4 separate regions of the Homo sapiens genome follow, and regions 1, 2 and 3 are each linked to region 4. The links come from fine-mapping of genetic effects on gene expression. A gene starts in region 4. Each other region holds a variant in brackets. All regions are shown on one strand. Distances are between the middles of the regions. Region 1 overlaps PALLD (palladin, cytoskeletal associated protein). Region 2 overlaps PALLD (palladin, cytoskeletal associated protein). Region 3 overlaps CBR4 (carbonyl reductase 4). Region 4 holds the start of PALLD (palladin, cytoskeletal associated protein).

What was found. PIP is the estimated chance that this variant, and not a neighbour inherited with it, causes the effect. A credible set is the group of variants that fine-mapping cannot tell apart.
Region 1: its variant is the best candidate, but not a certain one, in a credible set for the expression of PALLD in macrophages (Nedelec 2016, PIP 0.74).
Region 2: its variant is the best candidate, but not a certain one, in a credible set for the expression of PALLD in lymphoblastoid cells (TwinsUK, PIP 0.86).
Region 3: its variant is the best candidate, but not a certain one, in a credible set for the expression of PALLD in testis (GTEx, PIP 0.54).

The regions. Positions count from the first base shown.
Region 1 is chr4:168,794,980-168,803,068 of GRCh38, forward strand. The region is part of intron 10 of PALLD (palladin, cytoskeletal associated protein); the gene reads left to right. Among named protein-coding and RNA genes, the nearest start is that of PALLD-AS1, 150 kb to the left of the region's middle. The variant T/C (reference allele first, on the strand shown) is at 4,177.
Region 2 is chr4:168,676,992-168,685,080 of GRCh38, forward strand. PALLD (palladin, cytoskeletal associated protein) reads left to right here. Exons shown (of 22, transcript NM_001166108.2): 4 at 4,341-4,407; 5 at 6,007-6,112. Among named protein-coding and RNA genes, the nearest start is that of PALLD-AS1, 32 kb to the left of the region's middle. The variant TA/T (reference allele first, on the strand shown) is at 3,324.
Region 3 is chr4:168,997,337-169,005,425 of GRCh38, forward strand. It overlaps CBR4 (carbonyl reductase 4), which reads right to left. Exons shown (of 5, transcript NM_032783.5): 4 at 4,735-4,869. It also overlaps the pseudogene RNY4P17. Among named protein-coding and RNA genes, the nearest start is that of CBR4, 8.9 kb to the right of the region's middle. The variant C/T (reference allele first, on the strand shown) is at 4,160.
Region 4 is chr4:168,492,962-168,501,050 of GRCh38, forward strand. PALLD (palladin, cytoskeletal associated protein) reads left to right here and starts at 4,091. Exons shown (of 22, transcript NM_001166108.2): 1 at 4,091-4,233. The region is part of intron 1 of LOC107986198 (a long non-coding RNA gene); the gene reads right to left.

The sequences.
Region 1 (8,089 bases), 300 kb after region 4:
ATTCAGTGTTTGGTGAGGGTTGGCTTCCTGCTTCATAGAAGGCTGGCCTCTCACTGTGTGCTCATGCGGTGGAAGGGACCGGGAGCTCTGGGGCTAAAACTCTCATCCATGAGAGTTCCACCCTTGTGACCTAATCACCTCCCAAAGGTCCCACCTCCTAAAACCATCACGCCAGCAATTAGGATTTCAACATAAGAATTATAGGGACACACAAACATTCAGTCTTTAGCAAGATCTCACAATGTCTGCACTATATATAGCTTTACCACCATTTGAAAAGTACAATTCCTGTCAGTGTTTTTGGTAACCCACTGTTGTGAAATCAATTTAAAGGTTCTTGAGTGGCAATTTGAAAATGAAATCGAAGAGTAGAAAAAAGAATAGAAAAATCAAGAATGCATAATAGGTGTTGTTTGGAAAATTTGTGATTTAAGATAATTAAGTATATATATGTTGCCATTTTAAATGTATGTATTATATTGGTTGCTGTCAACAAAATATGAACGCTACAGCATCTGAGGTTTTCCAGTTGTCCACCACAATGATTAACATGTGAGAATCTTCCTGAAAAAGTTCAATGATTAACATGTGAAAATCTTCCTGAGAAAAGTTCCTATGTGGATGAGCTCTAAGGAATGAATATAGAATGTTCTATTCCCCACAGGTCTCTGCAGTGAATACAGTTAATTGGGAGCTAATCATGAACTGCTTTATATTTTTCCCTAATTGTCTTTTTTTTTTTTTTTGAGACAGGGCCTTGCTTTATCACCCAGGCTGGGGTGCAGTTGTGTGATTATAGCTCACTGCCACCTCACATTTCTGTGCTCAACAGAATTCTCCCCCCTCAAACTCCCCCGTAGCTGTGACCACAGGCAAGCACCACCACATCTGGCTATTTTTTGTACTTATTTTTTTTTATGTTTAATGTTTGTGGGTACATAGTAGGTGTATATATTTATAGGGTATATGAGATGTTTTGATACAGGCATGCAATGTGAAATAATCACAATGTGAAATCATGGAGAATGGGGTACCCGTCCCCTGAATCATTTATCCTTTGTGTTACAAACAATCCAATTACATGCTTTTAGTTATTTTTAAATGTACAATTAAGTTCCTATTGACTATAGTCACCCTTTTGTGCAGTCAAATACTGGGTCTTATTCATTCTTCTATTTTTTTGTACCCATCAACCACCCTCACCTCCCACCTTGCCCCCCACTGTCCTTCCCAGCTCTAACTAATTTTTTTAGTATTTATGGAGACAGGGTCTGCCATCTTGCCCAGGCTGGCCTAATTGTTTCTTGAGAATAATTGTTGTATCCCCCAAACATAAGGAGGAGAGAAGTCGTTTTACATTTCTGATGATGCTTTCTCAGAGCCCAGTGCAAAGGAGAACACCAGTCACTGCTGGCGGGTGTCTGACATTCAGTTTGGCTGTTTCACTTGTCCTGTGATAGCTAACTGATCTTGCTGTCTCATCATGCATTATTTGCACGATTGGCAGTTATTAAGGTACACCAGGCTAGAAGGGAGTCCATCTGGCTCTCCGCTGGGCCCTGTACTCTTGGCCCAGGATCTGAACCATAGCCTATGCTTAATAAATATTTGTGGAATGAGTAAGAGGTTCCATCTATGAGATGAAAACCACTGGTGGCTGATAAGTATTCAAATGGCATATCTTCTGTAAATGTTACAGAACGTCAATGCCATTAGGTGCTTGAAGAGAAGTTTAAAAATATTCATATGCAGGAAATGAGATCATAGAATTTCTCATAAAAATGCAGTTTGATCAAATTGAGGGGATGGATACCCACTTACCTTTTCATAGTAATAGTAAATTTGTTATAGAAAACACATTTTACCTTCCTTGTCTCCTAATTCGAGGTCATGTGAAGCTTAGCTAGAAGGAGCAAAGTACATTTTGTTCTGCCTGAACTGTCTCTAGTGAATACAGTTACCCTGGGCTTTATTATGAATACCTGGCCTGTTCCACAAAAGCAATGAATAGTGCTTCAAGGAAGAAATTTTACTTGTTTTATTTCCCAAGAAACTCACCAAATTGAGTTGTCTCTACTTTCCTTTCAAAACTATAACTAAGTACAGTAGTAATGTCAGGTCACTTATGATTTTGACCTGTGCCAATCTTTGAATATTTGAACATTTTTATCTCCTGAAAAATTACTTGGCTTGAGGGAGACACAGTTGGATGAGCAAAGAAAAAAAGAAACAATCAAATGATTTTCTGATGCTTTCGAATGTTCATAGGCTTGCTTTGAAATCCCTCTGTCTATATCACCCCATCCTGTTTTTGACTTCTAATCTCCTTTACCAAATACTATGTAGCAATATTTTGTGAGTCATCCAAAAGTTGAGTATATTTAGACCACCGTGACAATCAAACAGTATAAACAGAACTACTCATCTGTCTGTTCATCATCATCCCACGCAGGGAGTTAATTCCTAATAAAGGAGTTTATCAGATCACCCTCAATTACATCACTTTGGGATAATTTCATACCCAAGGAAATTTGAGGCATTTTTGCCTTGGAAAAGAGCAGGTGCCTTACGAAAAAGAAACTAGATTTGTGAGAACTGGGCTTATGTTTCAAATTTATATTCTCAACTTTACTCTGAAGAGATGGCTTGGAAGAAGTGACGGTAACACAGAATTGCCAGTTTGCTTGGCAAGGTCAAACTATTCCATATGTTACCTTGCAAGAAAAATATGTTAATTTAAAAAATATCAGAGACCAAATGAGAAGTTGAACACACAGCTGATTTAGCTCAGATTTTTGTTTGTTGTTATACCGATTGCCATATTAGCTCCCTCTTCTACCACCTCAACCCCACCCCCACCACCATACAGCTGCTCGCTTGCTCGTTACAAAGCATATTTCCCCCTGTATATTAATGTCATATTCAGCAAATCAGGAAATTTTGCAACTTCCCTTCTGATCCTAATCTGGCTATTTTTCTTGAGTTCAGTGTCATCAAATCAGAACCAGACACTTTTGTTAAGGGTATCACATTCAAAATTGCACACAAACAAGCCCCACCTTATTTTTATGAAAAGTCTGCCCAGTTACCCGCTTTGTCCCGACACTAATAGAGCCAAGGCTCAGGGTTTGCAATGTAAGGAAATGTGGAGTACATTCCAGCATGCTTTCTATGATGAGTAGATGTTTGATAGTACACCTCACTTATCTGTGCCTCCCCAGTTGGGGAGCCTTTTTCTTATCTAAAAGGCCTTGCCATATCAAAGGTAAGGATACTGTTTGGTAAATTCCTCTAAATAAGAATGCCACTAGGAGAAATTTAAATTATATGTAAAGGAATAAAAGTTGAAAAATAAAGGGTTTTTTGTTTGTTTGTTTTGAAAAGTTGGTTTCAAACTTAAAAATTTGCAAGTGTCATTTTCTGAATTGTGGAAATAGAGTAAAATTTATCATTTCTTATAAAGTTTTAACATTAGAAAAAAAGCTTCTTATGACTAAAACTAAGGCATTTGGTAAAATTTTCTTACCGCTTCTACTATAATATCTATTTCTCTTTAGATAGATAAAGATACAGATTTGCAGTAACATTGGAAAGTAAGTGAAAAACACAGAGGAAATTAAAACTTTACTATAACCTACCTGTGTAGAAATAATCACTGTTAATTTTAATGCATAAATATAAATTTTTAAAAAGTGGAACCGTATTGTAAACTGATTTTTATCCTACTAAAACAAACATTAAGTATCTGCTGAAATGTTTTAAATTTTTTCAAAATATATGTATTTTCTGACTCATTTGCTATAATACTTAACTCATTGCTGCCCATGTAAACTTGAACTGTCTCATTTGTTAAAGCGTGAGAGAATTCATAGTTAATTCTTTGTACAGCTAAATTGTTCAGTAGGAAATGCAGAAAGAAGTGTTAAAAGAAAATCTTCAGCCAAATTTAATTTAATTTAAAAGAGTTTAATTGAGCAATGAACGAATCATGAATCGGGCAGCCCGCAGAATCACAGCAGATTCAGAGAGACTCCGGGGGTGCCTTGTGGTCAGAACAAATTTATAGACAAAAAATAATAATAATAAAGTGACGTACAGGAATCAGAAGTGAAGTACAGAAACAGCTGGATTGGTTACAGGTCAGTGTTTGCCTTATTTGTACACAGTTTGAATACT[T/C]GGCAGTGTGTGAGTGGTTGAGGTATGGCTGCTGGGATTGGCCAAGACTCAACCACTGTTACAGATGCAAACTTTTAGGCTGTCAATCTTGTTTACCTATTAAGTTAGGTTGCAATTCATCCACAAGGACTCAAATACAGAAGTATAGAGTCCTTCTCAGGCCATATTTAGTTTGTTTTAACAGACGTAGAAGAGAAAACCCTTGTTCTTTGCTTTGTCCAGGGTAGTCAGCTGATTGGAAAGGTAACCGAAGTCTCTCAACATCAAAACATTTCTAATGCAAATTCTTTAAGTCGTACTGTTCCTACTCACCTTGAACTTATGAGCAAATCCCTTATCAATTGTGCTACCTTTTATTCAGATAATGAATTTGGGAATAGGGTTTGGAATTCAAGTCCCATAGCTTAGAAAAGATTGAGTACCTGGCAATTCAGTATAGTTGTGGATTGCAATAATTCCTGTGCTTGTTAAGTAACCAAGATTTTTGTGTGTGTGCGAAAAGCATGTGTAAAATAATTGACAATCAGCACTTCTGTTGGATAGATGGGTTCCTGAAAGAGCATATGTGAATAAATTTTGGTGTATCTGATGCTACTTTCCTGTTAAGCTACTATGGAAATTATCTTAAACATTATATTCTTTTCCCTGAGGCAGAAAATGTAAATAATACATTCCCACAGGTAACAACTATAACTATTTCCTATGTATGTTTTCAAAAATGGTTCATGCACTTACGAGCATTTGTGTACTGTATGTATTCATGCACTTATATAGGGTACCCTAAGAGATGATTTTTACATGAGGGCCTATCACACTTACATATTCTTACTTCTTAAGGGAATTCAAAGGTAGATACTTTGTTGTCCCTAAAAAAGGTACATGAAGATCTATTTCCCTCTTATCAGAGGCAGGCTTCATATCTGTAGTAAAGGAGAAAAATATAGAACATTTGCTTTAAAAGTTCCTCTTTTTATAAATAATACTTGCTAACTTTTATGCTTCTGTTTTATAAGGAATTTCTTCCTTGTGCTATATACAAAAGTTGCTTCCAGGTGGATTAAACAAGGCATAAAAAGATAATAAAGGAAAAATTTGATAAGTAGTTCAAATAAAAAAATTCTGATCATTAAAAGGCACCCTAAGGAGTATTAAAAGACAAGTCATAGGGTGGAAAGTATTTGCAACTTATGTAGACAACACTGGACCAGAATATGTGGGTTACAAATGGAATAAATAAAGAACTCGTACAAATCAATTTTTAAAAGCTACCAGGCAATAAAAAATAAATAAGTGAAAAGTAGAACAGCCACTTCACCAAAGAGAGAATTCAAATGGCTAATAAACATGAAAAGATGTTCAATCTCATTAAGTAATAAGAAAAATATGAATTAAAACAACAGAGATACCATTACACACCCATTTAATTGGCAAAAATTTAAGCCTGATAATACCAAGTTCTGGCAAGGATGTGAAGTAACAGGATATTTCATATACTGCCAGTGGGAGTATAAATTGTTAAAAACCACGTTGGAAAAGAGTTTGGCATAATTTGATAAACTCAAAGTTATGCAAACTCTATGACCTAGCAAACTTCACTCTTGAGTATATTTCTCAAAGAAATGCTTACATACGTGCACCCAGAGACACGTAACCCAAATGTACATAGCAGCCCTGCTCATAATAACCCCAAACTGGAAATATTCCAGAAGTCCATCAACAGTAGAACAAGTAAGGAAATTGTGGTAGAGTAATTCAATTAAATATTATTCAGCAATTAAAATAAATGAACTATAGCTAGACGAAACAACATGATAAATCTTACACACATAATATAGAACAAAAGCATACAGACAAAAAGAATACAGTCAGATTCCACTGATATAAAGCTGAAAAAGGAGGGAGAAACCAAGTACCTTGCTCAGAGATGCATAACTGAATAGTAAAGTTAGAAAGAAAATCAAGGAAATGATAACTCTGCAAGTCAGGATTGCGGTTACCCTGGGAAAACCCAGGGGTATGAGGGGGAGGCACACACAGGAATCTTCTGTTCTATTTTTTTACCTGAGCAGTGGTTACAATCTGGGTGTTTGCTCTATAACTCTTTGTTAAAGTGTAAAATTTTTTTGTTTGTTTGTTTGTCTGAGATGGAGTCTCACTCTCTTGCCCAGGCTGGAGTGCAGTGGCACGATCTTGGCTCACTGCAACCTCTGCCTCCCGGGTTCAAGCGATTTTCCTGCCTCAGCCTCCTGAGTAGCTGGGATTATAGGCGCATGCCACCACACCCAGCTAATTTTTTGTATTTTTAGTAGAGACAGGGTTTCACCACGTTAGCCAGGATGGGCTCGATCTCCTGACCTCGTGATCTGCCCGCCTCGGCCTCCCAAAGTGCTGGGATCACAAGCGTGAGCCACCACGCCCAGCCTGTAAATATTTTTTTAAAAGACGTGCAGATAGAAATTATCTTAAATAATTGCTTACAAGACAAAGAGAACGACCTGCCCCCAAGTCCCCCAGATAAAGTAGGATATCACTAAGAATCCACACCCAAGTAAAGTAATTAAAGGGGTTAAGATGTCTCTCCTTTTGTGATTAACACCCCGTCGTGCTTGCAGAGGCACCGCTGGGTGTCAGGGAACCTGCCTGCTGCTCACCTGAACACCCCATAAATAACACCAGCTCTAGGACATGGTCCATGTGAACAAATGAAGAATCTCTCCTTCAGCCAGAGGGTGAGAGTGGCATAGGTAACAACTAGATAATGCTTGGCTCTGCCTTTTTCTTATTGATTTGTAAGAGTTCTAATTGCAAGATAGGCTGAGAAAAGTAGTCTAGCCATGTTCCATGAAGAAGAGAACATGGAATTAGGTTAGTAGCTAGCAGCCTCAGCCACAATAACTTTATTTTGTTTGTGCACTCATCATTTAAGAAGTATGTGAGAGCCTACAAAATTGGGGAGTTACTTCTCGGGAATGCTCCATTGAGAAAAACTGCTGCCTCTTTTATCTGTGTAGTCAATATCATGGCCTAAATTCTAGAATCTTCTCACATAGCCAGAGTTTAGTGATCAAGCACCACAAACCAAGAGATATTACATAACAATAGGATCGCTCAAACAAATCTACGTGAACTAGGAAACTGCTTTTTGGCTCACTCAGAGGTACAAACTTTACACCCACTGAAAATTGTCCCAGGATTGGATAAAGAAAATGTGGTACCTATACACCATGGAATACTATGCAGCCATAAAAAAGAAATCACATCCTTTACAGCAACATGGATGGAACTGGAGGTCATAATCCTAAGTGAATTAACACAAGAATGGAAAATCAAATGTTGCATGTTCTCACTTTCAAGTGGAAGCTAAACATTGAGCACACATGGACATAAACATGGGAAAAATAGACACTGCAGACGACTAGAGTTGGTGCGGGGAGGACATGGGTTGAAAAAATATTTTTCAAATGTAACTACTGTTTGATAAAAAGGAACTATGCTAAATGACCACTTCTCCCAGCTAAAGGCAGACCATCTACATTACATTTTTTTTTTTTTAAGACGGAGTTTCACTCTTGTTGCCCAGGCTGGAGTGCAATGGCACCATGTCGGCTCACCGCAATCTCTGCCTCCTGGGTTCAAGCGATTCTCCTGCCTCAGCCTCCTGAGTAGCTGAGATTACAGGCATGTGCCACCATACCCGGCTAATTTTATAGTAGAGTAGTAGAGACGGGGTTTCTCCATGTTGCTGAGGCTGGTCTCGAACCCCCGACCTCAGGTGATTCACCCACCTTGGCCTCCCAAAGTGCTGGGATTACAGGTGTAAGCCACTGTGCCCGGGCTACATTACATTTTTACTCAGTTAAGAGCAAACAATAATAGGTGAATAGCAGCCTGATTCTGTATGTTAAAAATGATT
Region 2 (8,089 bases), 180 kb after region 4:
TCACTCTGCGTGGGAGGCAGAATAGGAAAAGTTAAGGTTTAGGCAGGTAACTGTTAGGTGAACAGATGATAGTAACTACAAGGGCTAGAACATGTAACTCTTTCAGACTGGAGCCTACATCCAAAACTGAAAGTGACGGTTAATAAATATGGAGAAAGACGTTAACCTGAGACTCCGTAGTGTTGTTTTTTTTTTTTTCTCCTGACCAGCAGGTGCAAAGCAGATGACTGAAGTGGGAACAGAGTGGGAGAGGGCGGGAGAATCGCCCTGAGGGGAAGGCAGGGAACTGGCTGGCACAGAGAGGGAGATTTGATCTGCCCCCGTCTCCAAGAGCTGCTCTGACACCTGAGATGTAAGGTGACTTTCAGATTTCACAAGGGTTGGACAGGTGTGCAAAAGCTAGCAAATGTGTGTTTATTCAGGGGGCCCCAGCCTTTTTGGCCCCTTTTTCCTTTGAAAATCAGCTGGAAAAAAGTAGCAAGAATGGCTTTCTAAAGAGAGGTCATCAGAAGGAATTTTTTGTTTTTTAATGATTGAAACATTTTGAATCAGGTGAAAAGTAACTGTTTTCTCTCCCCAATTTTTCGCTACCTTGAGAGTGTGTGTGATAACTTCCATATGGTTTTTGCCACCCCTCCCCTTCTCCTAAATGCTTTTATGATTCCAGTAAAATGGTCTCCCGGGTCACCCCCGACCTTCTGATCGCCTTCACTGGCTTTTCCTCAGGGTTTCTCAGCTCCCTGCATCTCCTCATCACAGAGAAAACTTCTCCTGGCCCATAACTTGTTTTTGATGGTTTGTTGTTTGCCCCGTTTGTGTCCCTACTCCGCCAGTTAATCCTGCACACTGACTTTTCCAGCCCCCACTCTCGGTGCCTACACGACCAGGTTCAAACAAGTCAGCCCCAGCGTCCCAGTCCTGCCTGTGTTTCGAGATTTGCCTCCCGTTACTGCCCCCAGCCTGCTGCTCCTCTCTCCTTGCACGATCTGCGCCTCGTCCCCAGACAAGCTTTACCACTTCCCAGTTCTCTTTCTTCATTCCAGCAGAAGCCTGGAAGGTGTGTATGAGGAAGGCATGAAGCTAGGCCCTCTGAGGAACTCACACGCGCGCACCTCATGAAGGCCACCTGGAGGTCACGTGGTGTGGGGGCAAGGTCACAGACCACGAGGCTCAACAACAACAGTGCTTTGCCTGTCACCACTGCTTTCTAGTTATGTGACCTTCAATTACTTCACCTCTTGGTTCCTTGGTGTCCTTGTCTATAAATTGGACATAATTCACTTCTTAGTGAGGTTCATTATGATGATGATTAAATGAGGTAAAGTGCCCAGCAGACGCCGGGCACATAGGACATATGCAAAAATTGGTAGTTCCCTTTCTAACCCAGCGTCCATCCTCAGGGAACTCATCATTTTCTAGCAGGCATGATATTCTAGGTGACGTGAGTGCTGTAAACAAGAACGCTGGGAGTTCAGAGAAAGAGCACAGAATAGTGCCTGGGCTGACCGTGGAAGATAGCGTATCAAGAAAAGATGGATAGGAGTTTCCTAAGGAGTGAAAACTATGACTAAGGTACAGGCATGGAAAACAAGCAGGGAGAGAGAGTCCCCACTTTCTCTGTGTCCTAGGGGAGGCTTCCTTGCCACCATCCTTAAAATTGCAGCCCCCCGGGAAGTCCCATCACAGCCCGTGCCCCTCCCCTGCTTGATGACTTTCCTGCTTCACTCACCACCGTATCATGTACTTATTTCTCTTCTGTGTCCTCACAAGATCAGAGGGGTATGTGTGTGTGTGTGTGTGGTGTACGTAGTGGATGTGGGTATGGTGTGTGGGGGGGTATGGTGTGCGTGTGTGGTGTGTGTGGTGTGTCGTGTGGGTGTGGCGTGTGTGTGGTGGTGTGGTGAGGTGTGTATGTGTGGTGTGTGTATGTGCAGTGGGTGTGGCAGGGTGTGTGTGGTGTGTGTGTGGGTGTGATGTGTGTGGTGTGGGTACGGTGTGTGCGTGGTGTGGGTATGTGTAGCATGGGTATAGTGTGTGGTGTGTGTGTGTGGTGTGGGTGTGTGTAGGTGCGTGTGTGGTGGGGTGAGTATGGATGTGTTTGGGGTGTTTATGGTGGGTGTGTGTGTGTGTGTGGTGGGGTGAGTATGGATGTGGTGTGTGGGGGGTGTGTGTGCATGGTGTGTGGTGGGGTGTGTGTGTGGTGGGGTGAGTATGGATGTGTGTGGGGTGTGTGTGTGTGGTGTGTGTGGGGTGTGTGTGTGGTGTGTGGTGGGGTGTGTGTGGTGGGGTGAGTATGGATGTGTGTGGGGGGTGTGTGTGTGGTGTGCGGTGGGGGGTATATGTGTGTGGTGGGTGTGTGGTGGGGTGAGTATGGATGTGTGTGGGTGTGTGTGTGTGTGTGGTGTGCTGTGGGGTGTGTGCGTGTGGTAGGGTATGGATGTGTGGGGTGTGTGTGTGGTGGGGTGAGTATGGACGTGTGTGGGGGGGTGTGGTGTGTGGTGGGGTGTGTGTGTTTGTGTGTGGTGGGGTATGTATGGATATGGTGTGTGGGGAGTGTGTGGTGGGGTGTGTGTGTGTGTCCTCTTCACTGCGTATCCCCCTTACTTATGGAGTGCACACCATTAGATGTGCAGGTGAACTCAGCTCTCTGACTTAAGGTTACATGACTTGGAAGTCCAAGAAGTTCTGGCAGATAGAGGTAGAAAATGAAGTTGGAAATCATGAGGGCCATTAAATGACAAATTTGGGGTTTTTTATTTTACTGAGTAGAGATTCTAATCATCTCATTTTTAACAGGGAAAGTGTGCTCTAGGAAAATCTAGCCGACACAGGGAGGGCAACGATGAATTTGAGAAGGAGGAGATGGGAAGACAAGAATGGATTGTGGTAGTCCAGGCCCCAGGCAAAGAAAGCCTACACTGGATGGTAGACACAGAAATAAATAGGAAGGGACAGCAAACATTCCAGCAGAGTTACCTAAACATGACTGTTTTCAATGTCAATAAAAGACTGGAAAACATATCACAGTAGAGTCACTGGAAGGAATACCAGGCAGCTATCCAAGAGAATGCAGTGAACGTATGTATTCTAAATCTACTGATAGGCAAAAGTAGCCAAATGCCAAGTGAACATGCCATGTGAATCCATTTGTATAAATATGTACATAAATGTAAATATGTTGATATGCTGTATTAAACTTATCCAGGCCATGTGCGGTGGCTCACGCCTGTAATCCCAGCACTTTGGGAGGCCGAGGTGGGCAGATCACTTGAGGTCAGGAGTTCGAGACCAGCCTGGCCAACATGGTGAAACCCCATCTCTGC[TA/T]AAAAAAAAAAAAAATACAAAAATTAGCAGGGCGAGGTGGCACATGCCTGTAATCCCAGCCACTCAGAAGGCAGGAGAATCACTTGAACCCAGGAGGCAGAGGTTGCAGTGAGCCAAGATTGCGCCACTGCACTCCAGCCTGGGTGACAGAGCAAGATTCCGTCTCAAAAAAAAAAAAAAAAAAAAAAAAAAAAACACTTATCTGGAACAATACACATCAGACTTAATGTGGTATTTGGGAATGGCATTTAGGAAGGTACCCACTGATCTTTACTATTAGGCTGCACAATTCTGTGCTATATGGTTATTTTCCTATAAGCATGTATTATTATATAAAAGAATATAAGTGACCCAAGTTAAATGTATCTTGGAAACATTAAGAATATACTTTGAACCATTGCAATTTTTTAAGTCTGTCACCTAAAATCTCTTGACATGAAATATGTAAACATCAAAATCTGACTGCAGTTTACCTTTTGACTAAAAATCTGGTAAGTTGACCCTTTATTTAAGAACAGTAATAATGCAAGTGAATTTGGGAAGGCATGATCCAAAATCAAAGGCCCTCTTATTCAAGAACAGAACCACTGTCATACTCAGTTTTACCCAGGAGCCAGAAAGCATCAGTCCTTACCCTGCAATCTCTGGAGAAGGTTACAGTTTAAAAGCGTGGGTATTCTTCACACAAACACACACACATCTTTATTTCATAGTTTATAGCCATTTAAAAGTACGGTTGTGATGACCACAGTGATAAAAATGAAATTAATAATAAATCTGTCATTAAAAGTATATTGCTTTGAAGAAAGCTATTTATAGTAGTACTTTTTAAAAATGAGTTTCTGAAGAAACAGTACAAATAAAAAATTGTCTGAGCCTGAATCACTCTATTTTATTGTGTGTTTCGGTCAAAAAGACTTTGTATGTTATTTTATTTAAGGGAAATATAATTCTTTGCAATTATTATAGATAACACTGATATCTTAACTTTACCATTATCTTTAATACTTTCCCAGGTGCCAGTTCAACAGATTCTGACAGTGAAAGTTTAGCTTTCAAATCAAGAGCTGGAGCTATGCCACAGTAAGTGCCTACAATTCCATCGATTATGTGGAAACAAAGAATGGCAACAGAATGGTTGGGGTATGAAACCATGTTTGCTGTGCTTTGAAGAAAAAAGTCAACTGATGTTAATCAGAGATCAAATACTGAGGTTGGAACACAATTTTTTTTTTTTTTTTTTTTTTTGAGACAGGGTCTCACTCTGTCACCCAGGTTGAAGTACGGTGGTGCGACATGGCTCACTGAAGCCTTGACCTCCCAGGCTCAAGTGGTCCTCCTACTTTAGCCTCCCAAGTAGCTGGGATTATAGGCATACACCACCACACCTGGCTAATCTTTTTTTATTTTTTGGTAGAGATGGGGTCTCACTGTGTTGTCCAGGCTCATCTGGAACTCTTGGACTCAAGCGATCCTCCTGCCTCAGCTTCCCAAATTGTTGGGAGGGATTATAGGCATGAGCCAACATGTCCAGCCCGAACACAATTTTTAACTTGTAAATTTGAACTTTGAAGTCTGCATTTCATCATTGATATGCCAGAATTTTACCATATGCAATGTTAGTTTCAAAGACAGCCATCTAATTTATTATAAATGTATGGAAAGAGAAGTCACATTAAGAGAAAATCAATTAAATCATTACTAAAATGTGAGGACCAATTTATTTATGCAAGTTGGAAAATATCTAATTAGGCCAGAAGTAGGTTCTCCTTTGGATACGATCTATATTTATTTAGATCTTGTACCCGAAATTCACAAAACTTAGTTATTCCTACAAAGACATACCAATTATTAAAATGTTAATATCTTAATTATTTGGCAAAAATAAAATCTACCAGAAATTCCTATTATGGAAAAGTCCATAAATATTGAGTCTGTTCTAATAAATTTCTTTTATCTGCTAGTATGTACATAAAAATTATATCCATTCAGCATCAAATAATCAGTGATGCTTAAAGGATCTTCTAAGGTTATTTTACCACCCCTGGTTTTTATAAGGAGCTCAAGTTTAGTGAAGTTACATGGCTTGCTTCAGATTTCACAGCCAGCTACTTGACAAAGCTGGGCCTAGAAATCAACTCTTCTTAATCTTCTCTAAATATCTCACTAACTTATATGCACTAAGAAAACACAAAAATTCCAAGATACCGACAACAAAATTAGAAACCAGAAAAAAGAACAGCTGTTAGACTTAAAATAGACAACCAAAACTTTGAGTTAAATATAGGACCCTAACCCTAAACATTTCAAATCTCTGCTTATCAATAAAGATTGGATTTTTTCCAAATATTTTCTCTTAGGATTTTCAAGTTTAATACGTTAGCATCTTCAACAGCGTCTCAGTTACATCTAGCTACTTTTCTTTTACTCATGTTTTGATTTTGCTTAATGTCTATAAGGTACATTCTATAAGGTACATGTATATACTGACCACAGCTATTCTAGCTGTAGGTTATGCATTCCCATTGTGGAAGCAATTACAGTTGAAGCGGATTGCGTATACAAAAAGAAACCCAGCTTTTCTGTTGAAACGTTTCAAGGAATTATTTCTGCTAAAAAAAAAAAACAAAAAAACGAAAACAAAAAATATTCTGACTAAACACTCACCTTCCTATTTTCCAGAGCTCAAAAGAAAACAACTTCTGTTTCCTTGACAATAGGATCATCATCTCCAAAGACAGGGGTGACCACAGCTGTGATTCAACCACTGTCTGTCCCTGTGCAACAGGTAAGTATGCTTTGAGCCAGAGCCCATAAGGGGTCGAACTCATCAGCAAACTTGTGGATTTTAAGAATATGACTTTGATTCTAACTAGTATACTCCCTTGAAATATTTTCTAAGTGGACACAAAATTCAGAGCAAAGAAAATTGTAGGTAATGTTTCTCCTTTCAGTTCACTAAAAACAACCTTTAACCAAAACCACACTGCCAATTAGTCAACATTTGCATTTCCATTGGGAACTTCTTTCTCTAACAGCTAATAATCTGATAAACTGGTGTCTGTTTTAGCTGTAACTATTTGATTATTCCCTCACATGTGTATGCTCTTTCATATAGCCAAATTTATTAGCTCATTACAAATTAAAAGACAAGTCTGCATACCAACAAAAAGCTTTCCCACTCCTAAAAGCTAAACAAATAAGAAAAAACAACTCAAATTCCTTGACTTCACCATGCTTTTTGATCTTGCTTTTATTTTATTGTAAGACTGCTATAGCCATGAAAGAACAATAATATAAACTACTGGAAAGTAGTTGTAATGAATTTACTTTGCAAACACAAACAATATGAACTTCTTTTAAAAAAAAAAGTAGAAAACCATTACATCTGGATGTCTCTAAATCATGGTTTAATGAATATGTTCAAAGACAACACTCACAGAAAGGTTTTCCCCCACAGTCTGGAAATGTAAACTCATTCCTAAGTAATGAGTATGTCTTATAAGTATCACCATGTCCTCCCTCAGCCTTTATTACCTATTGAATGCTCAGGGGTGTTTCAGCCACTATAGAGGCCAATAGGTGCTATCGATATGTGGAAAATACAAACAGTAGAGAGAAGACATTTGGGTCCATAAACTTGAATCAACAAGTATCAGTTACTCAGAGATGGCATATATAGTACATATTTCCTTTAAACCCCTTAATCAGAGTGGAATTTATAGAAATATTTGATTAAATCAGTGGGCATTTTTTGGTATTTGATGTTTAAATATTGATAAATATTTATTGAGTGCTTAGTACGGTGCTAGGCATTTCATGACAGGAAAAAATGTCACCCACCCCATTCCCAAATGGGGTGAATGTGACAGAATGTATTTAGATGTAAGACAGAAGCCTAGGAAATAGAGAGATACACACACATCTAGATATGTAAATACCATAATAATGTAAAGAGTGAATTTTTAAATGGATTAAATTCTACAAAGACATGGAATGGAAGGTAATTTACCCCATGTTTATAGTTGGGAGAATGAAGCACCCAGAGAAACTCCATCGCTTTATTATTGCAGGCAATGTGACATCAAGTAATGCTCTGGAACCAGACTCCCTGGGTTTGAATCCCAGTTCTATCACTTCCTAACGGAGGGACCTTAAGCAAATAAAATGTAACCCTTCAAGCCGAGTTTCTTCATCTGTAAAATGAAGATGATAACACTATGTATCTCATAAGTTTGTCCTGAAGATCCAGTGAGTTAATCTTCATATGACACTTGGAACAGTCCCTGGCATAGAGTAAATATTAATACTATAAGAGTGTTCACATATTCTTGGGACATAAAAAGACAGTGAAAAGTGAAACCCAGACCTCTTGAATCACAGGCCAGTAAAGTCTTCCAGGGTTAATGAATAAACTCCATTAGCATCCTAGCATCTCTACCGCTCTGCCACAATTCTTCATGATGTCCTGTGGCATATTTAGACACACGATACCAGATCACCATCATCTTGGGTTAAGAAGCTAACAACCACTTACATAAGTGAATAAATCCAGATCATTTAAAAATAAGTGATAGTACACAAAGAAATATTTTCCATTCACTACTCTGAAATCCTTATATTTCTCCAGAGATGAATGTCATTGAATAGGTATTTTAGCACGTTTCTTTTTTGCACGTCAATAAAAAAAAATTCTTTTCTCTCCTTTCCCATAATCCCTATATCAAAAAAGAGTACAAGTTAAATAAGATAGGTAGATGTTTGA
Region 3 (8,089 bases), 500 kb after region 4:
AAACCCAGTTCAATTTTTATAGGAACTCTTTAGGAACAGGGACACTCTTGCTCAAAAAGGTAAATGCATGGCTCCTGCCCAATGAGGATTTATATTTGATAAACTCTAAAGATATAGGCCAGGTGTGGTGGCTTATGCCTGTAATCCCAGCTACTACTGAGGCAGGAGGATCGCTTGAACCCAGAAGGTCTAGGCTGCAGTGAGCCAAGACTGCACCACTATACTCCAACCTAGGCAACAGAATGAAACCCCATCTCAAAAAAATTTTTAAACAATTTTTTTAAAAAGATTATATCCTTTATCGATTTCTGACTAGCTATAAACTATAAATAGAAACACCTCATTTCCATATCCCTAGGTCATTATTTTAGTTTTCAACATTTTTATATACAGCAGAGCCTTTATATTTAAAAAGGCATCAGGATTTTAGCCTATCACTAGTACTAACAATTGTGAGATGGGGCACTATTTGATGTATCTGCCAGATAAGATGTCCACTCTTTGATGTAAGTTTCTAGGACTCAAAAAGAACAAAAACAACCCAACACTTTTCTAAGGGAGAAGAAATAAGGCTCTTACCAAAAAGCTAAACCAAGATTTTAACTAGAACAAATTTCTATGTCTTAATATTATATTTGTAGAGGGAAGCAGAGTGGGAAATCAACTTCATTCCAAACAGCACATAAGAACACTTAGAATATCTTCTCTGAGTAGCTAACAAACTCATGCAAATCTTTGTCAACAAGATTTTCTCCAAGTAGTAAACATAAAAGCTCTTCAACTTAAAAAATAAAGTACTGAAACACTTAAGGTATCCTGTAGAAATAAACATAATACTATTTGTCAAAATTAAAAATGCACATACCTCTGAAGCCTTTGCAGTTCCAGTCCCAAGATTACACTCATATACTTGCAAATGTGCAAAATAAACTCCATACAAGTATTGTCACTGCATCATTAGTTGTAACAGAAAAAGTTCAGAACAAAACTAAATGTCCATCAAAAGGCAACAGGTTAAATAAATTAGGTATACCTTTAAAACAAACATCATTTTCTGTTTTCATTCAGTCATTAAAAGTGACATAACAGTCACAAAACACCAAATATTACATGATTCAATTTATATGAAATGTCCAGAATATGCAAATCTGTAGATACAGAAAGTAGTTTAGTGTACTGGGGAGATTGGAAAGAAATAGGGAATGAATGTTAATGGGTTTAGGATTTCTTTAAGGATGATGAAAACGTTCTAAAATTTACTGTGGTGAAGATTGAACAATTCTGGGACTATACTAAAACCACTGAATTGACTGAATTGTAAACTTTAAATGGGTGAATTGTATGGTATGTGAATTGTATTTCCACAAAGCTGTTATTTAAAAAAGTGAAGCAGCTCTATATGGAATAACACAGAAACATCACCAAGGTATCTTGTTCTATGAATAAAGGAAGATACAGAAAGCTGTGAATTGCATGATACAATTTGTGTTTTCTTACACTCATGCCCAGCATGCTTTATTGGCTTATATATGAAATACAAAAGAAACTTTGTAGTTAACAGCAACTACTTTTAAGTAACTGAATGTCCAGAGGAGAAAAGACTCTTTATGCCTTTTTGTACTTTTGAATTTCGTACTATATGTATTATCTATTCAAAACACATATTTTTTAAGGTAATACAGCCATTACAGTTTCCATTTATCAAATATTATTTCTAATATTCAATATCTTCCAATCAGTATGATTTCCCATGAACAGTTTATTTTATATTTAAAGTAATACCAAAGATTAGCAGCTATTGATCTTTAAAAAGTCAACAGTATTAGGCAATGAATCGCAGCCTAATTTATTATTTTCCTTGTTCCTTGCTTTTCCTGTTATAATTTGCTTTTAAACTGTTTTCCTGCTAATTGGAAACTCCATTTGAAGGTGACCAGGAAAACTGACATAAAAGGACACATATTTGTTAACTGTGATGTTTGTTAGCTGTGTTACAAGATCTGTTGAAGAATCTGGTTGAAATTACTATCTAAAATAAAGTTGGTAAGTAATCCACAGAACTGATTTAATTCTACTATTTCAAGTTGCACTTTGCTTCTGACAAATGATGCATATTCATACCATCAAATCTGCTAAATATACATAAAGGCCACTCTATTAAATGGCCACATTTTCAGCTACAGGTTTTTATCTGTAGTATAAATTGCACTGGAAATCCATAATATATAAATATATATTATGCTCTATAAGGGTTGTATGCTCAACAAAAAAGGGGAGTGATAAATAAAACCACCACTTTCAAAAAAAAAAAAAAAAAACTGCACTGGAAAGTAAAATCTTTAAGAAAGAAAGACTACAACCACACTTCCATAACAATCTTAAAACTTCCCCTTAGTATGCAAACTGGATTCCCACTATTTAGTCTACTGCCTTGACAACTATTTACTCTAAACTAGACAAAATTAAGCATTCTTTCCTTCTTCAACATTTCTATAGCACCATATATGTACCTCTATTTTATATTCGTCATATGACACTGCAATTATTTGTTTACATGTCAGTCTTTTTCACTATACTTAGCTCCTTGTGCAGAAATATCTTATTCATTCCTGTAATTTGGGGAGCTAGCTCAGTCCCTACACGTAGGAGACATGCCAGAAAGTTTGCTGCATGAGTTATTGTTAGCTAAGTACACTTCCATTCCCCGAAACCATTCAGCTTTTGTATTATCATGAACTAAAATTAACCCTTCATTACCCACAGTATTCCAATCCTGAAAAGAGAAGGAAGCAAATACATGTAGTTCCAAACCACAAATAATTTATTCCACAGATAGTTCATCTAGGCTAACGCTAAAAATCAATCAGCTTGCATAAAGCATACACAAAGAGAAAACAGTGCTAAGATAACAACAATGCTGCTTCTGGATTGTTTTTTCTTTTTCTTTCTCTCCCTACTCCCAGCAAATAGATGTATCTGAACCACAGTCACTTATCAAATATTCATAGATTTAGAATGTCTGAATGTAGCTAGTTGCTATGAGAAAAAAAAAAAAGAAAAGAAAAGAATTGAAATAAAGACACACTATAGACCAAAAGGGTTAATAGGATATTTTGATAAATCCCTGATACCTGCTGGCTCAACTTCAGTGCCAAAGAAAACACCAACTGTAAGGTCCAAGCTGGAGCCATTAGTGACCGGAAAGGGAAAGGTAGCAAAGGTCTACTTCAGCCCTCTCTTTCTTACAAAGGACCAGCAAACCAAAATAAACTGCCTTTTCTTATATAGGTGATTAATTCTTAAGTACCTACAGTAGGCTAGGACAAAGATTCCATGGCTAACTGGCAGAGGTAGATAAAAACACTTGTGTTACTCAAAAACCAAGTAAATACCTAATCAAAATTTCTAGCACACCAGCTAATTAGTGATCATATATTTTTGAGTTTTAGCACCTTTTTATTACCCTCTTCATTAATCCAGGCAATTTTATCAACTAGTACCCTGGCGAAAGGCAAATAATGGAAAAGTAAAAATTAGGAAAATGGGAGGTTCCAGATAGTTTAGACAGACCATAGTAGTAAAAGGACAAAACTATCTAAAGTTTGTGTAATGATATAAAGAAAATCTAAAAAGAATTTTTTTTTTAATTTTTATAGAGACAGGGTCTCAACAGGGTCTCGCTCTGTCACCTAGGCTGGAGTACAATGGCATGATCATAGCTCACTGCAACCTCCAACTCCTGGACTCCAGCAATCCTCCTGCTTCAGCCTCCCAAATAGCTGGGACTATAGGTGTGCACCACCACACCCAGCTAATTTTTTTTTTTTTTTTTCGGTACAGACAGCATCTTGCTATGTTGCTCAGGCTGATCTGGAACTCCTGGCCTCACAATACTCCTGCCTCAGCCTCCCACATGAGCTACCATACCTGGTAGGACATTATTTTTAAGCTCCCATTAGGTGGAAATCAAAAGACAAAGCTTTTAGTAACAGTTCTTCCATAAACTAGCTGTGTAACCTTAGGCAAGTCACTCTGAATCCCAGGTACAGTTTTCTAATCTACAAAAATGACTGGAAAAAATTATTTCTAAGACCCTCTCCACCTTAAGTTATTCCACTAGTGCAAAATTTAAAAATAAAGACTCTTATGGTTTGGATGT[C/T]TGTCCCCTCCAAATCTCATGTTGAAATGTGATTCCCAATGTTGGAGGTGGGCCTAGCGGGAGGTGTTTGGGTCATGGAGGCGGATTCCTCATGAATAGCTTGGTGCCCTCCACATGGTAAATAATGAGTTCTCACTGTTAGTTCATGCCAGAGCTGGTTGTTTAGAGCCTGCCACCTCCTCTCTCTCTTGCTCCTGCTATCCCCATATGACTTGGCTGCTACCTCTTTACCTTCCGCCATGACTGAAAAAAAGTTTCCTGGGCCTCACCAGAAGCTGAGCAGATGTTGGTGTCATGCTTGTACAGCCTGCAGGCCCGAGAGCCAAATAAGCCTCTTTTTTTTATGAATTACCTCAGACAGTCCTTTAGAGCAATGCAAACAGGCTAACACATAGACTTTATATAGAATATGAGGTACAAAAAATTTTTTTGAGTCCCCCAGTTCATTATTTGATTCTTTTCACAATCATTTTACAAACTATTCTACCCAGATGTCAATTACTAATGTTCCAAATAATGGCTTCCCTATAAAACAATAATCATAATCAAGTTATTTTAATAAAGTTTTCACTAACCTGGTGCAACTACATTCACTCTAATTTTCTTTCTTGCTACCTCTTTAGCAAGAGCACGTGAAAATCCAACTAATCCTCCTTTACTGGCACTGTAAACGGACTGGCCAGAGTTGCCTTTTAAGCCAACAATGCTTCCTAGGACAAAAAAAAAAAAAAAAAAAAAAAAAGCGTATTAAATTCAATTAATGGGGTTACTTGAAAATTTAGATAATTTATAGTAAACAAAAAGGTAAAACCCACTTCACCTTGTCCTTTGTTAAAATTAGAAATTCTAACCATTGTCATCAGTCATTTACGGAAGATTTAAGAGTCCAAGTCTGCTCCAGATACATACAGAAAATAGCATCTGAAAGCAGCTGATACAAAACTGCCAATGCAGGTGCTTGCGAATTGATTCACTACGTGAAGGGGATGCACTCTAATCTCTGAGTAGGTCAGATATGATGAAAATTCTGTGGTATTTATAAAGGCTTCCAGCAGGTAGAGGTTAAAGCCAGAAAAAGTCAGACAAAAGCTGACTAATTTTATGATTCTACAACACAGACATAAGGCAGAAAGCTCTCGTTTTCACCCTAAAAACTAGTTCATTTGAAGCTAAATCTCACTAAAATTGAATTACATGCATAACTCATTTTATTGTTCTGCTTTATTGTGCTTTGCAGATATTGCATTTTTTTTTTTTTTTTTTAACAAATTGAAGGCTTGTAGCAACCTTGCAACAAGCAATTCTATTAGCACTTTTCCAACACCATGGCTCACTGTGAGCAGTGCTCACTCTGTGTCTCTTTGTCACATTTTGGTAATTTTCATACCATCTTAAATTTTTTCATTATTATTACATCTGTTATAATGATCTGTGATCAGTGATTCTTGATGTTTACTGCTGTTGGGGTGCCACAAACAAAATATTACTGCTCACTGACAATGCATCTGGTCACCAAAGAGCTCTGATGGATATGTACAAGGAGATTAATGTTGTTTTCGTGCCTGTTAACACAATATCCTTTCTTCAGCTCATGGATCAAGGGATAATTCTGACTTTCAAGTCTTATTTAAGAAACATTTTATAAGTCTATAGCAGTCATAAATAGTAATTCCTCTTAGGAATCTGGGCAAAGTAAATTAAAAGCCTTCTGGAAAGGATTCACCGTTCTATATGCCATTCAGAACATTTGTGATTCATGGCAGGTCAAAATACCAACATTAACAGAAGTTTGAAAGAAGTTATTTTAACCCTCATGGATGACTTTGTGGGGTTCAAGACTTCAGTGGAGCAGAATTACAAGTGGAGCCTGAAGATGTGACTGAATTGCTGCAATCTTATGATAAAACAAATGGGTGAGGAGTTGCTTCTTATGTATGGATAAACAAAGTTGTTTCTCAAGATGGAATCTCTTCCTTGTGAAGATGTGAATACTGTTGAAAGAAATGACAAAGGATTTAGAATATCCTATAAACTTAGTTGATAAAGCAATAGCAGGGATTGAGAGGAGTGGCTCCAATTTTTAAAGATCTACTTGCATAAAATGCTATCAAACAGCATCACATGCTGCAGAGAAATCTCTCACGAAATGAAGAGTCAATCAATGTGGCAAATTTTGTCTTATTCTAAGACTTGGAACCAAATCAAATGTGCAACAATGACAGACTGGATTAAGAAAATGTGGCACATATACACCATGGAATACTAAGCAGCCATAAAAAATGATGAGTTCATGTCCTTTGTAGGGACATGAATGAAATTGGAAATCATTCTCAGTAAACTATCGCAAGGACAAAAAACCAAACACCGCATGTTCTCACTCATAGGTGGGAACTGAACAATGAGAACACATGGACACAGGAAGGGGAACATCACGCTCTGGGGACTGTTGTGGGGTGGGGGAAGCGGGGAGGGATAGCATTGGGAGATATACCTAACGCTAGATGACGAGTTAGTGGGTGCAGCACACCAGCATGGCACATGTATACATATGTAACTAACCTGCACATTGTGCACGGTACCCTAAAACTTAAAGTATAACAATAATAAAATAAAAAAATAAAAAAAATAAAGAAATTGCCACAGCCACTATTATCAGTCAGCAGCCATAAACATCAAGGCAAGACCCTCCGCCAGCAAAGATTATGACTTGCCAGAAGCTCAGATGATCATTAGCATTTTTTAGCAATAAAGTATTTTTTTAGCAACAAAGTATTTACATTTTTTTTAGATATAATGCTACTGCATACTTAATAGACCATAATATAACTTTTACATGCACTGAGAAACTAAACAATTGGATAAGACAAAATTTGCCACATTGATTGACTCTTCATTTCATGAAAGATTTCTCTGCAGCATGTGATGCTCTTTGATAGCATTTTATCCAAGTAGAACTTTAAAAATTGGAGCCTCTCCTCTCAATCCCTGCTATTGCTTTATCAACTAAGTTTATAGGATATTCTAAATCCTTTGTCATTTCAACAGTATTCACATCTTCACAAGTAGATTCCATCTTGAGAAACAACTTTGTTTATCCATACATAAGAAGCAACTCCTCACCCATTTGTTTTATCATGAGATTGCAGCAATTCAATTTGTGTGACTTACATTCTTGACATATTCGCTTTATTCCGGTGGAGCAGAACCAAAGCTACAATATCTGCGAGACATGCTTGTACTGTCAATCTAAATTGGCAAAGCTTCAATTATACACTTTTTGTAAAAGTGCAATTTCATTACATTCAGTGATATATTGTAAACTGTACTGCCTACTGAAGATTCTTGAGTGACCACATCTAATGAATATGTAATAATAATTTTTAATTCAAATATCAACTATATGCAAATAAACTCTTGCAAAACAGAAGTGGGGAAGTAATTTTCTGCACCACTGACCTGTACTTATGATACAAAAATTAATCAAGGACCTCACAAAATTTTTTTAAAGTAATTTTAAAAAAAGAAAACATTCCAAACATTTCTCTATTAGAATCAACAAGTTCAGTATTAGAATATTTATCTACATTATATATTGTAGGCCAATTAATAACAAAGGAAGAGAACTGTGAAGTACACAGAGAGAACAGACATCAGACTGAAGAAATGCATATGGATAGAGGGGTGTTTATCAGAAAGAAAAATACAGAGACACAAAAAAAGAAAAATACATGCACGAAAAAAATACCAAAACAGGGCTGGTCCGATGGTAGCGGGTTATCAGAACCTATTAACAGTAGTGTCACTAAAGTTAGTATACAACCCCCAACTGCTAAATATGAGTGGCTTTTAAAAGAAAAAAAAACACAAGCTGCTTTAGCAGCTTTGATTCGTGCCACGCACTACTGTTCATCAGGTCAAAAAGTGGTAATT
Region 4 (8,089 bases):
CCTGGATCGTAAGAAAAAGAAAACGTCCAAGGGGGATGAATGAGCAAGTCTGCTGCATTCCTTTGCACACCCCTTTCATCAAGGAAACTTTGAATACCTTTACTTTTTCTATTGGCTGCCCAAGAGTTTGTATCTCCTAAAACAAAGTTTGTAAACCAGTATCCTCGATTGACCTGAACCTGGGAGGCAGACTGATAGATAATCTCAAAACAGAGTGATCTACAGCCTGGAAATTCTGGTGAAGAAGAAAAATCAGTGTATGAGAGAGCTAGAGGAAGAAAGTTTACAGTCAAATAACATGTTTGAACGTGCAGTTGTGAAAACAGAGCATGCCCCAATGTGGCTATAGGACTGATGGGTTAAAGGGAATAGAGGTGTGGTAGCCAACTGCCAAGATGACCACCAATGCATTGTCTTGCCAACTGGTTTTTACGCCTCTATGCAGTCTCCTCCCACAGTGGATACTGCCAATTTGTATAACTAAAGGATACTGCGGGAAAGACGAAATATGACCTCCAAGGCTGGATCATAAAAGATATAATGGGGCCGGGCGCGGTGGCTCACACCTGTAATCCCAAAACTATGGGAGGCTGAGGTGGGTGGATCACCTGAGGTCAGGAGTTTGTGACCAGCCTGGCCAACATGGTGAAACCCCATCTCTACTAAAAATACAAAAAAATATCTGGGCGTGGTGGTGGGCACCTGTAATCCCAGCTACTTGGGAGGCTGAGGCAGGAGAATCACTTGAACCCAGGAGGTGGAGGTTGCAGTGAGCTGAGGTCATGCCACTGCACTCCAGCAACAAGAGCAAAACTCCACTTTAAAAAAAAAGACATTGTGGCACAATCCAGCTGCCATGAAGCTAGGAAACTCAGGCAGTGACACAGAGAAGTCAACAGGGTTCCAGCCAATAACAGGACTAACTTTCCAGGCACGTGAGTGAGCTGCCTTGGAAGCAGATTTTCCAGCCCCAGCCATGCTTCCACCTGAAAGAAGCTGGGGCAACATCTTCAGTACTATCTCATGATACCCTGATCTGGAATTACCCAGCTAAGACTAATGGATTCCTGACACATAGAAACTGTGTGAAATAACAAATATATATTGTTTTAAGACATTAATTTTTGCAGTAATTTGTTATGAAGCAGTAGATAAGTTATATCTGATTTTGGAGGTGGAGGAGGTCTGTTTGTGTGATCTGTAAGAGGAACAGAGATGAAGATTCATAGAGAAAAGCAGGTCCAAAACCAATATGCCAACATATAGAATAGACAAATGGGTGCTGAGTCACCCAGAATAATGGCAGGGTGTGGAGTGAAGAAGAGAACCAAGAGCCCAACTAGATCCAAAGTCTTAATTTTAAAAAGTGGGATGGAGGATGGTTGATGCAAATATAAGTGCTTCAAAAGAGCAGGAATTTCTATAAGAAGAAGTAATCATTTGAAAGCTGAACTGGAGCCCCATGAAGGAGCCACAGACTCCCTTTCCCAACCTTCGTGCACACAGAAATGGGCTCTGGTGGAAAATATGAAAGTGCATGAGAAATGATATTACTGTCCACACACTAATCTCATCCTTAATATCAACTGGACCTTGCTATACTAACTTAAGAGTGTTGATCAAACTTTCTAAATTTTTTTGATGCCAATTTTCTAAGGAAAAGAACTTCTTATAAGATTTTTAAAACAAGCTTGGTTTGCTGCACTATTTGCAATACACACACAAAAAGGTCACATTTCTGTGTCCTTTTGAGTAAAGTCATATCCATCTTTGAAGCCTCTCTCAGGACCACAAGCTGTTTTTTTTTCTTTTTTCTTCTTATGGCTTCATCACTTCACTGGTGTTATACCAGGATTTAGGAACCAAGCAATCCAAAGAAATGTGGGAGAGGCCTCGTCTGGCCAGTAGTCCAACATGATTGCCTCTGGAATTCACCATGAGACTCACAGTTCACCAGAAGGCAGAGGCAAAAATCAGAGTTGCCAATTAAAATTATTTCTAAAGATGGGTTCACTGCTTCCTATTCCCAAGCCTTTCTGAGACTCCATGGGGTGAATCACTTGCTTCTTTTCTGTATCTCCTCCTGCAGGCATTTAAGCTTTGTAATTTAGTTACATGCATACTTATATTTATCTCTTTCCAACAATTTTGTTCATTTCTGATATCTTCTATTGTCTTCCCTCCCAATTTCTGCCCTTTTCAGTTTTTACTATTATCTTGTGGTTTTAGGAAAAAGCAGATATAAATATGTGTTTAAGCAATGCTATGGTTTGAAGGTTTTTGTCCCCTTCAAAATTTTTGTTGATTCCTAATCCCCTATGCAACAGTATCAGGAGGTGTAACGTTTAGAAGGTGATTCAGGAGGACTCCTCATGAATGGGATTTGATGCCCTTAGGGCTTGATGGAGGAAGTTTGACCCCCTCTTGCCCTTCCACCTTCTGCCATGTGAGGACACAGTGCTCAAGGCATCACTGTGGAAGCAGAGACAGGAACTTCACCAGACAACAAACCTGCTGGCACCTTGATCTTAGACTTCCCAGCCTCCAGAACTATGAGAAATCAATTTCTGTTCTTTGTAAATTACCCAGTCTGTGGCATTTTGTTATAATGACACAAACTAAGACAATCAATCAGAGTTATATTTCCTTGTAAGTATAAATTTTATTTTTTTATTTTTATTTTTATTTTTTTTAAGAAGGAGTCTCGCTCTGTCACCCAGGCTGGAGTGCAGTGATGGGATCTCGGCTCACTGCAAGCTCCGCCTCCCGGGTTCACACCATTCTCCTGCCTCAGCCTCCCAAGTGGCTGGGACTACAGGCACCCGCCACCACGCCCAGCTAATTTTTTGTATTTTTAGTAGAGAGGGGGTTTCACTGTGTTAGCCAGGATGGTCTCAATCTCCTGACCTCATGATCCACCCACCTCGGCCTCCCAAAGTACTGCAATTACAGGCATAAGCCACCACGCCCAGCCGTAAGTATAAATTTTAAAATCACTTCTTAATTAATATAATAGATGAAATGACCCACAGAAGTATCCACTCACAGAAAGGACCATTTCTAAAGGACCAGTTTGGCCTATAAAGAAAATACAATAGCAGACCTTCACAAATTTTCTAACATCAGAAAAGAAAAAATATTTAGATATTAAACTGAATCAAATGTGATGGTCTTACCCAGACAAAGGAAGACTCAGCACCCCATTTCCAAGTTAACTGGGAGCTTTTGTGTTGCTCTTTTTGCCCCCCTTATATTTGATTCTGCTACCTGACCTTTAAACAGAAAAGCTTTCTCTTCTTGCTATCTATGTTTGTTATTTAAAAGATCAAAATATTAAACTCTTGCTATATCTATTTGTCATTTGAAAGATCAAAATATTAAATGATTGTGAAACATTTTTTGCAACTGTAAGAGGGTTGATACTTTTCCTGAATATTATTCATTCAACATTCATTTATTTCTTTGACAAATATTTAAGAGATGCTCATGATGTCCTAGGCATTGAGCTAAGAACTCAATGTTGCAATGTGGATAAGATCCAGTCCCTGTGTGTTCATACTTATTTAATACTATTATAGACAAGGCCTTTAATACATACCATAGTCATATATCAATTTTTAATTAGCAATATGAAATAAGAGAACAATGGGACTTTCCACTCAATTTGACAGGTGGCTAAATTTTCAGTTACTGAATTTACTATTTTAGGGTAATCTAGCACATGACCAAAATTTAAATGCACAGAACAGAAGATCAGAGTAAGAAGAGCTTCCATTTGGATTATCACTTTTTCTACTTGGAGTCACATACTGTACTTTAAATTGATTAAGAACATGTTAAAGGTCCAGGTGGTGATTTCCAGCTACAAGTCCAAAGTATAGAAGAATGTGTTTAAATCCTACGTTTATCAGATCCATAAATATAGTTCCTTCTATGTTAAGTGGCTTTATTTCTAAGAACCCAGCCCTCGGTCCTGGGGGTGCTTCCCAGCCCGCTGCTGGAATTCCTGATCGTGGCAGTCTGCTGAAACATGAGCTCAGTTACCAAATATAGCTGAGTGGAGTAAGAGGACAGATGAGAGTCTGAGGCCACAGTTGCCTCAAAGTGACCACGGACCAGGCAGTCTCTAATGAATAGGCAAGGCCACAACCTCCATTCTCCCAGAAAAGAAGAAATGCTCATCTGAAATTCATCACCTCTCTGGAGTCTTCAAACTGACCAAGCATTGAAAAGGTCTGTAAGGTGTATCTTAATATACTAACTAGTAGGGCAACATTTTAAGGACTTAAAAAAAAAAAAACTAAAAATACAAAAGTTTTTCTGAAGATATGATACTATTTACAAGATACCTTAATTATTCTTTTGCTTGGAGAGGAAACGTAATGAGAATGTTACGGTTTTGCCAAAAACAGATAATACGTAAGATTTGCCTGCCCACTTCATCTCTGCCTTTGCTGTCAGAGAATTACACTTTCTGTTATAAGCTTAAGCATGCTAAGATGGTGCTATCAATTCCAAAAGGATTAAATGTATTTATGGAGCCAGCTTTTGTCAAGATCGTGTATGTGTTATGTTTCACAGAAAAGGAAAACGCAGCTTTCTAGACCCTCACCCATATTTAAGCTAGATAAGTGATGATGGCTTAAAGTGATAGACCTTAGATTTCAGTAACATTATAAATTGTTAATTACACTTTCAAAAGATTCTAAAAGTAACTCACTGGACATAATTAAATGAGTTGGGATAGTAACAGCAGGTATTTTAAATTATATTCATGCATAAAATTTACATACATATTTTTAATAAGATAACGCTTACTAAGGGAAACCACAGTGCAATCTCGAGTCCAGTCAAGTTTAAACATCACAGAATAATTTTTATCATGTTGTTTTAAGTTGCACATGAAATTGTCTTGAATCCAATATAGGAGGTTGACATAAAATGATTTCAGGCTCATATTACTTATTAACATTTGCTAAAAATACTAATTGCCTTCTAGTATGAATAATGTGGTGACATATAAAGCCATTTCTTGGCAATATAAAACTATTACAAATCTATTCAATCACATATATGCAGAAATTAAATCCTCATTTCATGATAAATGTGCCTTCCAATGTTTTTTCTCACAGAAAGAACTTGAATACTCACCTCAATTATTCAGATTTTTTTTTCAGATTTTTAAAATCAAAGTCTCTTTGACAAGTTATTGCTAACAGCAGAAAAGGCCGATGAGGTTTATCTGGCCACTAACTGCCCTGTAAATACATGATTACACATTCCTAGAATATAAATTAGTCCTCTGGCATCCTAGAATCTGGTATGGATTAGGGTCTGTATCCCAGGGGTTCTGTGTCAGCTCTTCCTCTGGGTTTCTCTGTTATTGCTAGAGCTGAATATTAAAACTGGCCTTATAGCATATTTCACAATAGAATGAGGATCTGGATTGCACTGGACAAGTACAATCACTTTGACCTCCTTACCTCATTTTTTAAAAATGTAGAGGGCAATCATTATTCAGGTTTAAAAATAAATATGACAAGTTCTTTAAGAGATACCAAGTGGAATCTGCAAGGCCCAGACAAGAGCTCCACTTCTTAAACAATATGTGTGTGGAGGCTGTCAAAGGGTATTGCAATTACTGAGCTCCAGTTAGAAATTCAGGCCATCTAGAGTTAATGACTGTGTCCCGGTGAAATTACAGCAAAGAAAACAAAGATTGAACAAAGTATCTTCGACTAAAATTTCTAACTGTTAAATCATATTAGAGAATATAGAAGCAAATTTGGTAAATAGGTTTTGAATTTAAGTGAGAAGAATAAAGCCCTGAATTGGATAATGGTAATGGAAATGGATAATTCAGAAGTAAAATCTAAATATTTGCAATGGACTCAGTATGGTGAATAAAGTTGATAAGATGAACAGGACATGGGATAACTTCAAAAACTCTGTAAAGTATCTTATTTGGCTGTTTCTGCATTAAATGAGCTATTAGATTATGTCCTTGAAATTGAGATTAAATAAGCTGTTTAAAGAGATATTTAAAACTGTAGGATAAATATATCTGCCTGCATTGACAATTTAATAATTAGAAAGGAAAATAATCCATGTGTATTTATTAAGAAATAAATTATAAAATTGTAGTGCATTTTCTGCATCAAACATAAAATTTCATAAAATTTTCGTGTTTGACTTTTGCCCTAAAGGACCCTTTGTAGCAAAAAAAAAAAAAAAAAAAAAAAAAAGGAAGGAAGAAAGAAAGGGAGACGGGGAAGAAGGAAGGGAGAAGGGAGGGAGGAAGGGAGGGAGGATGGGAGGGAGGATGGGAGGGAGGATGGGAGGGAGGAAGGGAGGGAGACATGGAAGAAGGGGGAAGGGAGGCAGAAGGGAGGGAGGGGGGAGGGAGGAAGGGAGGGACTTTATTGATTTAGTCTAGGGGGGTTGCCTGTGATTCTGAAGCATGAAAATTAAGTGTTAAAGCTTTTCTAACTTTGGTTTTCATAGTTTAGGTTTTATTAAAAGATATTTCAATATCTAATATTTGTATCAATGGTTTGCATTACTTTTTTAGTAATTGCTTAAATATGAAAATAAAACTGCTAAACCTAAAATTAAAAATCACTTATAACTTTTTTTCAAAAATTACAAAATAAGCAACAAAAGATCCCCCTGCATGTCCCACCTTTCAACTCCTACCCCTGCCTAAATCCCCCCACAGAGGTCAGTGTTGATTGTTTGGTGTATGTTATTCCAACCATTTTCATATATTTATTCCTATCTATGTATACATTTTTAAATGACTATGGGAATTTAGCTATTCCACCTGGACTCTCTAAAGAATCTGCTGAATGTGGTACATGGTATTAAGTGATCCTTACTGCCTGTCAATGTTTTTCTAACATCAAACTTTTTCTTTCAAAATTGTAGCAGTTCTTCATCGACTCAAAGTATTTCACAAACAGACTTCAAAAGTTTTCCCCTTATCTAAATTTTTAAAGTAATTTCCTATAATATCTCCAATGAGAGAAGAAAACTTTGCAGTTAAATGCAGGCTTCCACCCTGAGTCTGCCACTTTCTGATGGCTCAGGTTGGGCCAAATAATTGAAACTTTTTCTGCTGCAGTTGTGGGTAATACAAACAATAAAATAGAAAAATAACATCTACTACATGGATTGTTCTGAGGATCAAACTGTTCACTTTTGAAAGCAGGTAACTTCCAAGCTGTTATGTAGGAACAACTTGCATTGTCACTGAATTCTTTCTACTTACTAGACTCTGCTCTTTCTCATGTATATTCCTTGTCTTCCCCAAGTTCCTCCACGTCAAAGAAATCTGTTGTAATTTCAACAGTCAATAGTGCCTTGATTCATGGGGATCATGCCAGGGGGTGGTCCCATAAGTCTTGTTTGTTTGTTTTTTGAGTCAGGGTCTCACTCTTTTGCCCAAGCTGGAATGCAGTGACCTGATCATCGCTCACTGCAGCCTAGAACTCTTGGACTCAGACAATCCTCCCACCTCAGCCTCTGGAGTAGCTGGGGCTACAGGCACACACCATCACACTCAGCTAAGTTTTTGGGTTTTTTTTTGTATTTTTGTAGAGATGAAATCTAACTATGTTGCCCAGGCTGGTATTGAACTCCTGGGCTCAAGCGATCTTCCTGCCTCAGCCTCCAACAGTGCTGGGAGTACAGATGTGAGCCACCATGCCCAGCCCCCTATAAATATTTCTTAACTGACAACATAGAGGATTCTCCCAAATATCATAGAGCTGGCTTTCAGGTAATCTATCCCCAAAAGTCAGCAACTTTAAAGGCAAATGGTAGTCATAATTTTTAAATTTGTCTATTTTTTCTATCATTTGTATATTCATATATGAATGTGAACCATATACATTTATGCCTATAGTACATATTCAGGATCTAAAAAATAAATGTTTTGCCAAATATTAGGATAGTCATGCCAAGATAAGATTCACAAAATTACTTATGTCAAATGTGTAATATACATACCAATGAAAACTTATTTATATGTTCTATATTTTATAGTATACCATGAATCTAACAGAATTCAGATGACACTAACTTAGGG